Regions from separate parts of the Homo sapiens genome. Here regions 1 and 2 are each reported to be linked to region 3. Evidence: microRNA targets listed by miRTarBase, many of them from high-throughput screens and not tested one by one. Region 3 holds a microRNA gene; each other region holds the end of a gene's coding sequence.
What was found. Region 3 holds the annotated microRNA hsa-miR-6509-3p (UUCCACUGCCACUACCUAAUUU, at 2,023-2,044, opposite strand). A microRNA usually pairs through its seed, bases 2 to 8, with sites in the 3' UTR of a target mRNA and lowers its output. Matches are read on the target gene's strand: a 7mer-m8 pairs with bases 2 to 8, a 7mer-A1 pairs with bases 2 to 7 and ends in A, and an 8mer does both.

Region 1 (4,243 bases), not on the chromosome of region 3:
ACTGTTATCTCTGTTACTATCTCTATTGTGATGGCAAGTTGATTTAGAGCTCTAATTCTAGGGAGATGTTTCAATTGAAACATCAAAGTTCATGTACTTGGATATGCCACTTCTTAAATCACCAGAGTATTTTTGTTCAGTCTTCATGTTACAGATACAGACACTGTCCTTTTCGTCACAAACATACAGATGTGTGCCACAGAGTAATTATCACAATGCCTACATCTTAGAACTGTAAAATGACTCACTAATGCTGACTGCCAATTTCCTTTGTCTGTCATATGAACTAGCCAGACACTAGAGGATATGTTTATGTATGTCTTAAATGATTTTTATCCCACAGTATTAGGTTATGTACCATCTTGGTATTGGAACCATCCTACAGTATAGCTCACACAGTATCAAAATTATTTTTGGAAAAATTATGCTAAACATCTATATTTACAACTGGCTTACTCTACTTTTTTATGTCTACATTTGATCATACTGTGTTAAGCATATATTTCATCCATATCTTCCTTTTTGTAACTCTTAAAATCCTATACAACTAACAAAGTTCATGCAAGAATTATATTTTCTCCACGTAACTATGGCCTTAAACTTGTAGAGCAAAAGTGTATCACATATTTATCTTCAATGAAAATAAAAACAAAAATTGTCTAATTTCTGCCTATTTATTTGTCTTCTAGTTATAAAGAGAATGCTATGAGGTTATCAAGAATTCACCATGATCAACCTGTAAAGCCCCTGGATCGAGCAGTCTTCTGGATCGAGTTTGTCATGCGCCACAAAGGAGCCAAGCACCTTCGGGTTGCAGCCCATGACCTCACCTGGTTCCAGTACCACTCTTTGGATGTAATTGGGTTCTTGCTGGTCTGTGTGACAACGGCTATATTTTTGGTCATACAATGTTGTTTGTTTTCCTGTCAAAAATTTGGTAAGATAGGAAAGAAGAAAAAAAGAGAATAGGTCAAGAAAAAGAGGAAATATATATATTTTTAAGTTTGGCAAAATCCTGAGTAGTGTAGTCCTATTAATTCCAGACAAAAGGAGTTTAACAAAAACACGTCTCCCATCCTGTTTCCAAATTTTCTATTTCTCTACCTGCGATAAGCCTACTGATAAAGCCTAGATTTTGGCATGATTATTATTAACTTGTGAGTTATAGTCTTCTATTTTTCCTTTGTCTCTCCCTGCTGACTATACCCTCTTCCTGTCACTTTTCTGACACAAGGATACTACCTAATTTTAAATATGTTCTATTCATAGTATCAAATTATTTTATCGTTAACCTTAATTAATGATTAACAATATGCTGAATCCTGGTAATGCATACAGTGTAGATGGAATTTGATAGGTGTAAGGAAGAGTCAAATTCACAAATTTCCATATACCAAACAAATCAGGGAGCCACCGTAGGAGAGTAGTGTGTTATGAGAAAGGTAATGATTTCCTTTTTTAATAAAAACAAACTCTTCTGCTTGCTCAATGTTTCAGGAGTTAGAGAATGAATTTTAAGTGTGACGTGCGTCCCTATTAAATGTCTACAAAATTTTCATTAAGCATATCTAGAAAATCACGGCATAACTTGCCTGCCTTTCTTCAACATATATTCTTATATAACCTGTAGTGGAAGATTTGGGTACTGTCTTTAATAAATCAATCAATCGACTCTTTTATTTCAAGGAGAAAGTTCTATGTTATATGTTGAAGGTGAACAGATCATATTTAGAGGATATAACAATTAGAAATCTAGAAAATAATTATCATTTTTATAAAATTTTTAGTCAACTGTACAAATAATTACATAAAACATCAATTAATTATGCTTAAAAATCACTAATGTTCATAATATATAATCACTATTTGTAATCAAAAGTTTAATTTTATGCCAAAAAATAAAAAATGCTTACTTGGAATTTGATATCATTGCATTATTTTTGTCTTTATCTTCCACAAATTTTAATTTATCAATTAATTGTTATGCTATGTATATAAAAGACTAAGAGCTTCACCAAGGATATGGCATAATAAATGTTTATCAACGGAAAGCATAGTTGAAGGCAAATACTTTTACTTGATTCAGCCTTGCATTAATTTAATAAATATATTAAAGATTTTGCTTTCTTTACCCTTTATAAATTTAATGACATTTCTAGCTAAAGTGTTAATTTCAATATTTGAAATTGAGAAGATAAATTACATTCGTTGCCTTAGTGATATTTTTGAAATTCTTCTTTCTTTCACTGTTTCTTTTTTCAATTTTATGTTATTTTAAGTTCCAGGATACATGTGCAGGTTTGTTACATAGTAAACGTGTGCCATGGTGGTTTGCTGCACCTATCTGCCCATCACCTAGGTATTAAGCTTAGCATGCATTAGCTATAGGCATATAGCTAGGCATATACTCAATTTTAATAGTTTGTAAAATCTAGAAATATAGCCAAACATAGAGTCAATTGATATTTGACAAGAATGCAAAACTATACAATGGAGAAAAAACAATATCTTTAACAAATACCAGTGGACAAACTGATTATCAGTATTCAAAAGAATAAAATTGAACCCCTTACCTCAAGTCATATATAAAAATGGACTCAAAATAGATTAAAAAAAAACTAAATGTAAGATCAAGAACTATAAAACTCTCAGCAGGAAGAATATGGGTATAGCTTTCTTTCTAACCCTGAATTTTGCAAGGTTTTTAGATATGACACCAAAAGCAGAAGCAATCAAATTAAAATTGATAAATTGGACTTCACTGAAATCAAAATTTTTGTACATCCAAACACCAGCACTAAAGTCTGAAGAGAAACCAGACTTTGGAGGATATAGTTGCAAATTACATACATGGTAAATGACTTGTGTAAGAAATTTATAAAGAAAGCTTACAGCTCAATGATAAAAAAAAAATGACCCAATCCAAAAATGTGCATAAGATCTGAACAGGCATTTCTCTAAGGAATATGTAAATGTCCAATGAGGACAAATGAGCAAATGTAATGTCCAATAAGAACAAATGAAAAAATGCTCTGCATCATTAAGTTCAACATTATTACAGGAAAATTTAAGTAAAAACCACAATGAGATACCACTTCACCCTCACTAACATGGCTATTATCAAAAAGATAAGTAATTAAAAGTGTTGGCAAGGATATGGAGAATTTGGAATCTTCATACTTTGCTTGTGTGTATCAAAAATTATTCAGGCACTTTGAAACAATCTGCCAGTTTATTAAAGTTTAAACAGAGTTACAATATGACCCAGCAATTCTACCTCTAGTAATATACCAGACACAAATGGCAATAGGTCTATACAAAATTAATACATGCATGTTGATAACATCTTAACCAAAACTGGAGAGAAAACTACAGTTCATCACTGATAAATGAATAAACAATATGTTTTAGAATATTATTTGGCAATAAAAATAATAAAGTCTTGATGCATGCTATACCATTAATGAGACTTTTTAAAACATTATACTAAGTATAGATGCCAAACAACAAAGATCCTTCATATAACAATATGTCCCTTCATATGAAATGCTCTTAATAGGAAAATTGATAGAGATAAAAAATAAGTTAGTGTTTGCCTAAAATGCAGGATAAGGAATGGCTAAGGGTACAGTGTTTCTTTTGGTGGGTGATAAAATACTCTAAATCTTGTTGTTGCAGTTGTTGAAAAATTCTATGAATATACGATGAACCACTGAATTGTATATTAAAAACTTTTTTTTTGGAAGACAGGATTGCAATCTCCACCCTTTGCAGCCTCAACCTCCTGGACTCATGCCATCCTCCCACCTCAGCTTCCCAAGTAGCTGGGACTGCATGTGCACACTACCACAGCCAGCTAATTGTTCGTTTTGTTTTTGTTTTTTTTTTGTAGAGACAAGGATTCACTGTGTTGCCCATGTTGATATCAAACCTCTGGGTTTAAGTGACCCACCTTCCTGGGTTTCACAAAGTACTGGGATTACAGACATGAGCCATTGCACCCAGCCATTGAATTGTACACTTTAAATTGATAAATATGTGAATTGTATGTGTACAAATTTTTTACACACAAAAGTATCTTGAACCGTGACATCTAAGAAATGGTAATTCAGCTGTATAATTACTTTATCTCCAGTTCTGTGTCAAGGGGACTGCAGACCAAGAAGTCTCCATTTCTCACTGTACTTGACACTTCACAAACCTCTTATATGACTTAGGTGTCTAGAACACACAAGTTCAACTC
Region 2 (4,224 bases), not on the chromosome of region 3:
AATAGAACAAATACAGTAATTGTGGAGCTGAGCTTAAAATATTCAGACCTCAGGTTTCAGAGTCTGACTGGCATGGGTTTGACACCTGCCTCTTAGAAGCTCTACTTCTGGCCAGGCACGGTGGCTCACGCCTGTAATCCCTGCACTTTGGGAGGCCAAGGCAGGTGGATCACGAGGTCAGGGGTTTGAGACCAGCCTGACCAACATGGTGAAACCCCATCTCTACTAAAAATACAAAAATTAGCTGGGTGCAGTGGTGGGCGTCTGTAATCCCAGCTACTCAGGAGGCTGAGGCAGGAGAATTGCTTGAACCCAGGAGGCAAGGCTGCAGTGAGCCAAGATCGCACCACTGCACTCCATCCTGGGTGACAGAGCAAGACTGTCTCCAAAAAAAAAAAAAAAAAAAAAATTAGCCAGGCATGGTGGCGTGCACCTGTAGTCCCAGCTACTCAGAAGGCTGAGGCAAGAGAATCGCTTGAACCTGGGAGGCAGAGGTTGTGGTGAGCCAAGATCACGCCACTGCACTCCAGTCTGGGCAACAGAGTGAGACTCCGTCTCAAAAAAAAAAAAAAAAAAAAAAAAAAAAAAAAAAAGCTCTGCTTCCTTCTGGAAGTAACCTCTCTGAGGCTGTTTTGTCACCTGTAAAATGGGGATAATTTTGTTTATCCTAATTATCCCCATTTTACAGACTAGGAAAACAAGCATTGGAAGTGCCAATACTAAACTGAGGTGAACGCACAAAATAAGCAGCTTTTTCTCTCCACAGTTGGAAACACTGCCATTTGCCTTAAAAAGAAGTGTGTAAAAAACATTTTTTAATAGGAATAAAGCCAAGTAGTCTTAGCCACCACTGCCCTAAATGTAAGCAGAGACACCATTTTCTGCAGTGTGCATCAGGCACATACCACAGGTGTACAAAGAAGGAAATATACTGATGTTAGAATGAAAGTGTTGCCATCATTAAAGTTTTCAGTTGGCCAAGTCAACTGCCCTTCATACTTGCTCCCAACACTCACCTCCCCTCCTCCACTCATCATGACACAGATGTACATTCAGTACCTACCTGTATGTTCGTCCACACGTCTAATGACCGAACATGGCTGCATTTCACATACTTGACCCATGAAAGTAGGAGGCGTGCCCTCATGCATGAACCACTTTCCTTTTTTAACACAATCACAAACCTTTTCCACTTAAATGTTACTCATGGCTGTGAAACTGAATCCACATGTTCCTGGCACTTTGACTCACCTACCCTGGCCTTAAAGCGAGACCCTTTCCCTATCTTTTTACCTATAGATGTTATCCCTAGTGTCCTAATAGGGTTTAATCTATGATGGAGGATTTTAACAGATTTTATTAACCATGTGTCATATGCTGGGTGCTGTGGAGCAAGACTCAGTTAACTATATGTAAGCTCCCATCCTGACACACTTTATGAAATGAGAAAGGAGCTGAAAGATAATTCAAGAGAAGGGTATGAAACTGAAGAATGCCTTGTCATCAAAGGGCAGGAAGTACCTTAGCTGGGTTATCCCAGTCTGGCACCTGGTCCTCAGTCTTCAAGTTCAGAAACTCAGGTCATCATTTCCTAGGAACTGGGTGGATTCTGGGAGATTGCCTCACACCAACCAAACTCACAAGAGATTCAGTAATAAGCCAGAGTGCCATTTTTTTTCCTTCACAATGGAAAATGAACCTGATACTGCAGTTTATCTTAACAGAGCACACCTACACTATGGGGAAGTCTACTTAAGAGACCAAATGATAGATCAGAGGGTTGTCTGGTAAACTTAGATTCCCAAGTCAGCTGGAAACATACCTAGAGATAATCTCTTAGGGTAGAATAGTTGCCTGTGAGAAGTTTGCCCAAAGTACTGAAGCTTTATAGTTTGAATGAGTCATTTGCTAACCTGAGTCTCCAAACACCTTACTCTCGCCCTCACTTACAGAAATTAGAGATACAGGTATGGAAGTTAGTCCCACATGATAGTAAGATGCCAAAGAATCTGATATGGAGAGATGTCTGAAAGCAGAACTCTCAGAAACAAATTTAGTAAGAGGGGAGGAGGCAAAGTGTCCAAATAAGAAATATTCAAAGTGAAGGGAAAACCAAGGGTACAGTATCTCGAGAGCCAAAAGAAGGGTTAAGAAGAGATGGTCCACTATCAAATGTGACAGAAATAGATAACACTTTCCAAGTGGAAAATCACTTGTGACCTTTGAGAGTAGTTTAACAGAGCAACGAGAGTAGATGTCTGATTGCTAAATCATCTCTAACTCATTCTTCAGAGTTAAGTTTGCAACACAGCCGGACGCGGTAGCTCACGCCTGTAATCCTAGCACTTTGGGAGGCCAAGGCTGGCGGATTGCCTGAGCTCAGGAGTTCGAGACCAGCCTGGGCAACACGGTGAAACCCCGTCTCTACTAAAATACAAAAGAAATTAGCTGGGTGTGGCGGCGTGCGCCTGTAGTCCCCGCTACTCGGGAGGCTGAGGCAGAATTGCTTAAACCCGGGAGGCAAAGGTTGCAATAAGCCAAGATCACACCACTGCACTCCAGCCTGGGCAACAGCGCGAGACTCTGTCTCTACCAAAAAAAAAAAAAAAAAAAGTTTGCAACACAAAGCAATAAGGTTTGTGATAACATCTTAATCAATGAACTGGTCTTTATTGAACAAATACCCTGCAGTCTGCACCACAGGAGTCACCTTTTGTTTATGAGAGGCAGGAGACTACAGTGCAAAGAACACTGGCTGGGAAGTCCAGGGCCCAAGCAGCAGAGTGTTCACTGGTCCTTAACTTTCAGAAGAACTGCAGAGAGCCTCCTTTCTCTCTGGATGAATGTGTTTCAACATTTCTAACTGAGAGTAGGGCTAACTGATCAGGTACCCCCACTGGCTCTAACCTCACAGCTCTAGCATTTGCAGTTCCCTCTGCCAGGAAATCTCTTCCCCCAGATACCCACACAGCTCACTCCCTGACCTCCTCCTCAGCTTTGCCCAAATGTCAAATTATCACCTTCTTGTTCAGAAGATCTTCCCTACTCCCCATTTCCTTGCACAACCCAGCCCCATTCCCTGCTTTACATTCCTCCATGACACTAATCACCATCTGATGTACTGTTTTCCTGATCTGTTTATTGTCATTTTTCCCCACTAGACTTCAAGTTCCATGAAAGAGATTTATTTTGTCCTCTGTTCTGTGGTGTGCTTGGCATAAAGTAGATAAGCAAGCATCTGCTGAAGGAATGAATTAAATGCCAGCTGCAATCCCCAAATTACAGTAGATACACGGGAAAATTTTCTTTAGGAGGCTGAATTCTAACAGCATGATATCAAACAAGGATAGGGTCAATACAGAGGCCAGTGCTGTTTGAAAGTCATCATTTCAATGGTAACTCCTTCACTTGTGCTGGACTCGGTCTCCCCTCAGGAGACTCCTTTCCTGTTCAAAGTCAGTATTTTATATACTCAAAACCAACAACAAACTCCAGGTGTAACTTTATTCCACCTTCTCCAACTTCAGAGTTCCAACCTTAGAGGATAGAGCATTATGTGGAAGGAGGGTGAGGACTTGATATGAAAAAAGTGATGACATACCCCTGGTTCATTTCTGGGTTTCCTCCTAGGCCAATTCAAAACTTCCAAAATAAGGTCAAGTAACACAATAGGCTCACACTTGCATCACAAGCTGTTTAGAAAGTGTGCACAGATCTCTGACTCAGACCAGATGTCCTCCCCACCATGGGCAAGGGCTGGTGGGAAAGACACTCCCAGCCTTCGCCTTCATCCAATACTAATAAATAACCTACAGAAAGAGCAGCGCTGGAGGCTGGCCCTTGAGCCACCCACTGCTACCGTTGCGGAGCCAGGCCTGCCTCATAGCCCTCTGTCTTCATGTCATTGAGCCCTAGCTCCTCATTTTGGTCAAAGGTGCGCTTGTAACGCTCCACCTTCATCTCAGGATCATCTTCAGGCGCATACACATTCTGCAAGGTCAAGGAGAGACAATCAGTGCCGCTGTGCCACTCCCCCTCTCTGCAGGCAGCTTCCAATTCCCACCTTCCCAAGAACAGAATGAGTTTTGGGTTTTTTTCTTTTTATTGGCCTCCAATTTCCCATGGCTAGACTGAACTAGTGGGTAGCAACAGAGCCCACATGGGCCAGGGGTAGAAGACCCCAGCCCCAGAATCAGGGAACAATCCACCTATTTTGTTATATCT
Region 3 (4,243 bases):
CACTAGAGCTATTTCATCTGGTGCAATACTTGGCTATGTGGAGGTCTGGAATCCGGCTGCCTGGGTTTGCATCGTGACTCACCAATCACTGTCTTCCTCACCTGTGTGTACCTCTGTTTCTTCAACCACTACTATTATTATCACCAGCTGGGGCTTCTGCTTTAACTGGCTGTTTCTGAAGGTCAAATACCTCTCTCTAATCTGCCTTCCTCTTTAAACCGTCAGAGAGGTGCATGCTTCTACTGAGGAATGCATCCAACCTGTGGTTACCAATCTTTCCATACATGAGATGCTCCTTCCAATGCACAAAACCTTCCCAAGACTTTACCACAGTGGTTGCGTTTTTATTTATCCTGACTACACATATCTGGATGTAGAGCTGGCAGAGCTGTGCAGTTCCCCACCTCTAGGCAGAGCCACAGGCTCGGAGGCTCAGAACTCCTAGAGGACTTCTGAGGCCATGGGGACCTTACTCATAAAGCTCTGAAGCAAGGCTGGACACGGTGGCTCACGCCTGTAATCCCAGCACTTTGGGAGGCCAAGGCAGGTGGATCACTTGATGTCAGGAGTTGGGACTAGCCTGGCCAATACGATGAAATCCCATCTCTACTAAAAATACAAAAAAAATTAGCCAGGCATGGTGGCATGCACTTGTAATCCCAGCTACTTGGGAGGCTGAGGCAGGAGAGTCTCTTGAACCCAGGAGGCAGAAGTTGCTTTGAGCCAAGATTGTGCCACGGCACTCTAGCCTGGGCGACAGAGCGAGACTCCATCTCTAAAAATAAAAATAAAGCTCTCAAGCAAGAGCAGTGTGTGCCAGGAGGCTCTTCCGCAATTCTCCTTCAGCAGGCACAGAGGACTGCAGGCAAGGCAAGATCAGAGGGAACTGTGGGGCTGAGAGCACAGAGGGCAAAGAAAAGGAAAGGGCCGTCACACACACTCACAGTTCCGAGTCCCCCAGGCGGTCCATGTTGGAGACATAAGGAGGCAATTTGTGTTGGACCAAGGCCTCTTCCTCTTCTGGCTGTTGCTCCTCTTTCTTCAGTCGGTGGATTTCAGCTTGCAATGCAAAAAGCTATACAGGGGTGGGACTGAGTTAGCCAATGATCTCACCTAACCTTCCCTCTGCGGAGGAAGATTTCTAGACACATCGCATCCAAGCCCACTGGTCTGAGTGCCACTCGCCTCAGCGTCAAGGGGCCCATCTCACTCTGCTCACTGCAGACTGGGAAAAGTGACTGCTGTCACTGGACAACAATGAGGTGAGAAAACCAAAAACCATTAGAAATCCAAAACCCATTTTCTTTTTAATCATTTGACTTGCTTCCTCCTAGATTCACTGAGAAAAATAGCTCCACCCAACCTGTTTTGCTTTTTAGAATCTACAAAATCAGGCTTTAGAACTCTCAAAGCCTGACTCTGGAATGGAAAAAAAAAAAAAACCTGTTAATGAACTACAGCGTTTTTAACCTTTTGCCTGAAGAAAATTACATATACACACACCCCAAATCCCAAGAATCTTAAACCCCATAACCTAAACAGCCTATAATCTTCCTTTTCCTAACAATATCACCTAAGGAGATCTTAATTTCAGGAAAGAGAAATGTTCCTCAGGCAACATGTACAGGCAAATGTGGGTCCCCTGGCTCTATTGTTTTATCAAACTAGAGAAGCATATAGCTGAGTAGGAACAACTAAATTATATATGGGTTATAAACTATATATATGTGTGTGTGTGTATATATAGTTTATATATATACATATAGTTTACATATATATGTGTATATATATATACACACATATATAGCTATACGTGGAAAGACAAAACAGACACATGAAAACAGGTTAGTTATAAGGTGGCATGGATGCATATAGTCTTTTTCTCCTTAAAAGTTAATTACTGTTACTATATTGTTCATGCTACATATCTGACTTAAAATATGAATCTCGCCTCTGGTTTTCAGAGACTGTTACTCTCCAAATCCCCAATACTGACTTTCTGGTGACTCATTTCCATCTGAGAAATTAGGTAGTGGCAGTGGAAACCTGATTAATATAGTGTTCCACTGCCACTACCTAATTTCACACACAAAAAGCAGAAGTACTTCCTCAGGAGCAAGCCTGTTCAGAACAAACCTTCTGACGCAGAACTTCATTTTCTTCTTGAACCTGGTTAGTCCTCTGACACTCCGCATCAAAGTTCAGGATCACAGGGACTGGTGCACGAAGTTAAAGAATAAGCCAGCCCCTGAAATGTTTAAACGTCCTTCCCAAACCCTTGACACACCAGTAAAACACATGAGACACAGGGACACAGAGAACAGAGTATAGGAGCGGTGCTGTGGGCTCTTGCGGGCTTAATGAAATAGTCGCTCCCTACAGTCTTGTCTCTAAGACTTTCTCTAGGTCTGGCCTCATTTCATTCGGACAGATTCACAGACGCATGACCATCTGCCTGGCCAGCCCACAGAGGGGACATAAATCCAAACCTAAGCATTTTCTCTCAAATACCAGAAGCAAAGAGCTAGCATCCAGTGGACTTCACAGCCAGTCTGAGCTTTAGTGAGGTCACTACATTCAGCTAAAAGCAGCCCTGGAGGCCAGTGGCTCTGCAGTAATACAGCCAATGAGGCAGAAAAGACCAGTCAGTTGGCTTCGCCTCCCCAGGTTGAGCCTCTCCCTGGCAAAGGTTTGGACTGAGAAGAGAAAGCTTTCTGCAGATTGCGTGGCCACCCCAAGAACAACGACAGTCTATAGCTTGGGATACTGGTCCTTCTCCACTGCCTCAGGCAGCTTCAGTTAGGAGGAGCACAGAGCAGACAGGGCCTCAGAACTGGAGAGGGGACTAGAGCCCATATGTGTGTAAGCTAGTTTGAGAAGCACTGAAAAGATCTTGAGTGACAGTTTCGATTTCACTGGAGGGCCCACAAAGTTAACTGGAGAGCCCTCAGGATGAAGAGAGGGAACAACGGGGAAGAAACAAGGCAGTTCTGGCAAGGGTGGAATTCACACTCATCTGGGGCACAGAAAGGGTGAAGGCAGGAAAGGTGCCCTTCCCACCTCCACCAGAAAGTGTTCCTCCCAGAGGCCAAAACGCCTGCCCATGGGTGGGCCTCTAAACACCCAAGTTTATCAGTGCCTCACCAGCCAGCCCCATTCAAGCCAGACTCCCTTCTCCTCCTCTAAATTTCCAGCCTAGGGAGCATGAACAATGGCCTTGGGAGCTCTGGCTTGTACACTTGGTAGGCTGTAAATTATTTACCTGCATTCTCATTCATTCCCCCTCTCCAATACCCGCATATATATTCTTAAAGCTACTGTGTTCTCTGGCAACTTGAGGAACACTGAAGTTACTATTAGAGACAATAACCCAAACACTAACACAGACAGAAGTTCCAACCCAAGAAGTCTTCTCATCTGTACCTAATCCCAGCAAAGGTATATCCCCGGGAACACGTTTCATGCACAGAGAGGGTACTCTCAAGGCTGCCCGGTTTCTCCAAGCAGCAGCTGCCTTCCAACCCCAGTGCCTGCTGACAAAGCCAGTACTAGCACCCCACTGCTGCCACTGTCACTGCCCACACGTCAGCTAATACTTCAGCAGCACAGTGTCAGAACTAAGATTTATGATTCCCTGGCTTACTGACAAAAACAACCACAATTTGTCCAGCCCCCTCATGTGACCCATAAAAATGGTCCCTGGGCATTTTTGTAGAAGAAATGCCTGTATGGAGACCAGCGGGCTACTGATCCTGAGGTCTGGGTGCCTCAGGCTGGGCCTTCAGCCCCAGGCAACTGAAAGGATATGCATGCACTGAAACAGGACGCTCAGGAAGTTGTGCAGGGACACAATGAAGGTGTCAGCCCACTGTCGAGAAAAGTAGGTAGCAAAGGTGGGGTTGGTGTCCGGGGATGGCAGGAAGGGCAGGACAAACCAATCCTTCCACTCAGCCTGGTTCTGGAGTTCCGTGGCCTGCTTTGCAAAGAACTCCTGAGCCTTGTCATTTCTGTTTGTCTGCCAAGACACAAGGAGGTAGCAAGGAGGGAGGAGAGACAGAAATCCAGAGGTAAGACTCTTCATCATTGCACAGCAGACAACCTTTGACTATCAGCCTGCCAGGTAAGTGGCAAAATAAAATTCCATAATATAAAGGAAATCATCACTCTTTTCTCAAGGAACTTGTCATTTCAAAGCTGGTTTAAGCTGAAGTTCTAATGATAAATCCCATCCTAAAAATTAATC

Region 1: miRTarBase lists UGT2A2 as a target of hsa-miR-6509-3p. Seed matches in the 3' UTR shown: 7mer-A1 at 1,629-1,635.
Region 2: miRTarBase lists ZPR1 as a target of hsa-miR-6509-3p. Seed matches in the 3' UTR shown: 7mer-A1 at 1,188-1,194.

The regions. Positions count from the first base shown.
Region 1 is chr4:69,586,098-69,590,340 of GRCh38, reverse strand. It overlaps UGT2A2 (UDP glucuronosyltransferase family 2 member A2), which reads left to right. Exons shown (of 6, transcript NM_001105677.2): 6 at 690-1,924. The coding sequence ends at 969. It overlaps UGT2A1 (UDP glucuronosyltransferase family 2 member A1 complex locus), which reads left to right. Exons shown (of 7, transcript NM_001252275.3): 7 at 690-1,924. The coding sequence ends at 969. Among named protein-coding and RNA genes, the nearest start is that of UGT2A2, 51 kb to the left of the region's middle.
Region 2 is chr11:116,775,070-116,779,293 of GRCh38, forward strand. ZPR1 (ZPR1 zinc finger) reads right to left here. Exons shown (of 14, transcript NM_003904.5): 14 at 1-3,990. The coding sequence ends at 3,856. Among named protein-coding and RNA genes, the nearest start is that of BUD13-DT, 3.7 kb to the left of the region's middle.
Region 3 is chr7:135,204,984-135,209,226 of GRCh38, forward strand. It overlaps MIR6509 (microRNA 6509), which reads right to left and starts at 2,095; the gene lies at 2,011-2,095. WDR91 (WD repeat domain 91) reads right to left here. Exons shown (of 15, transcript NM_014149.4): 3 at 3,808-4,015; 4 at 2,137-2,219; 5 at 945-1,075. RefSeq lists a silencer at 1,927-2,086 and an enhancer at 3,876-4,243.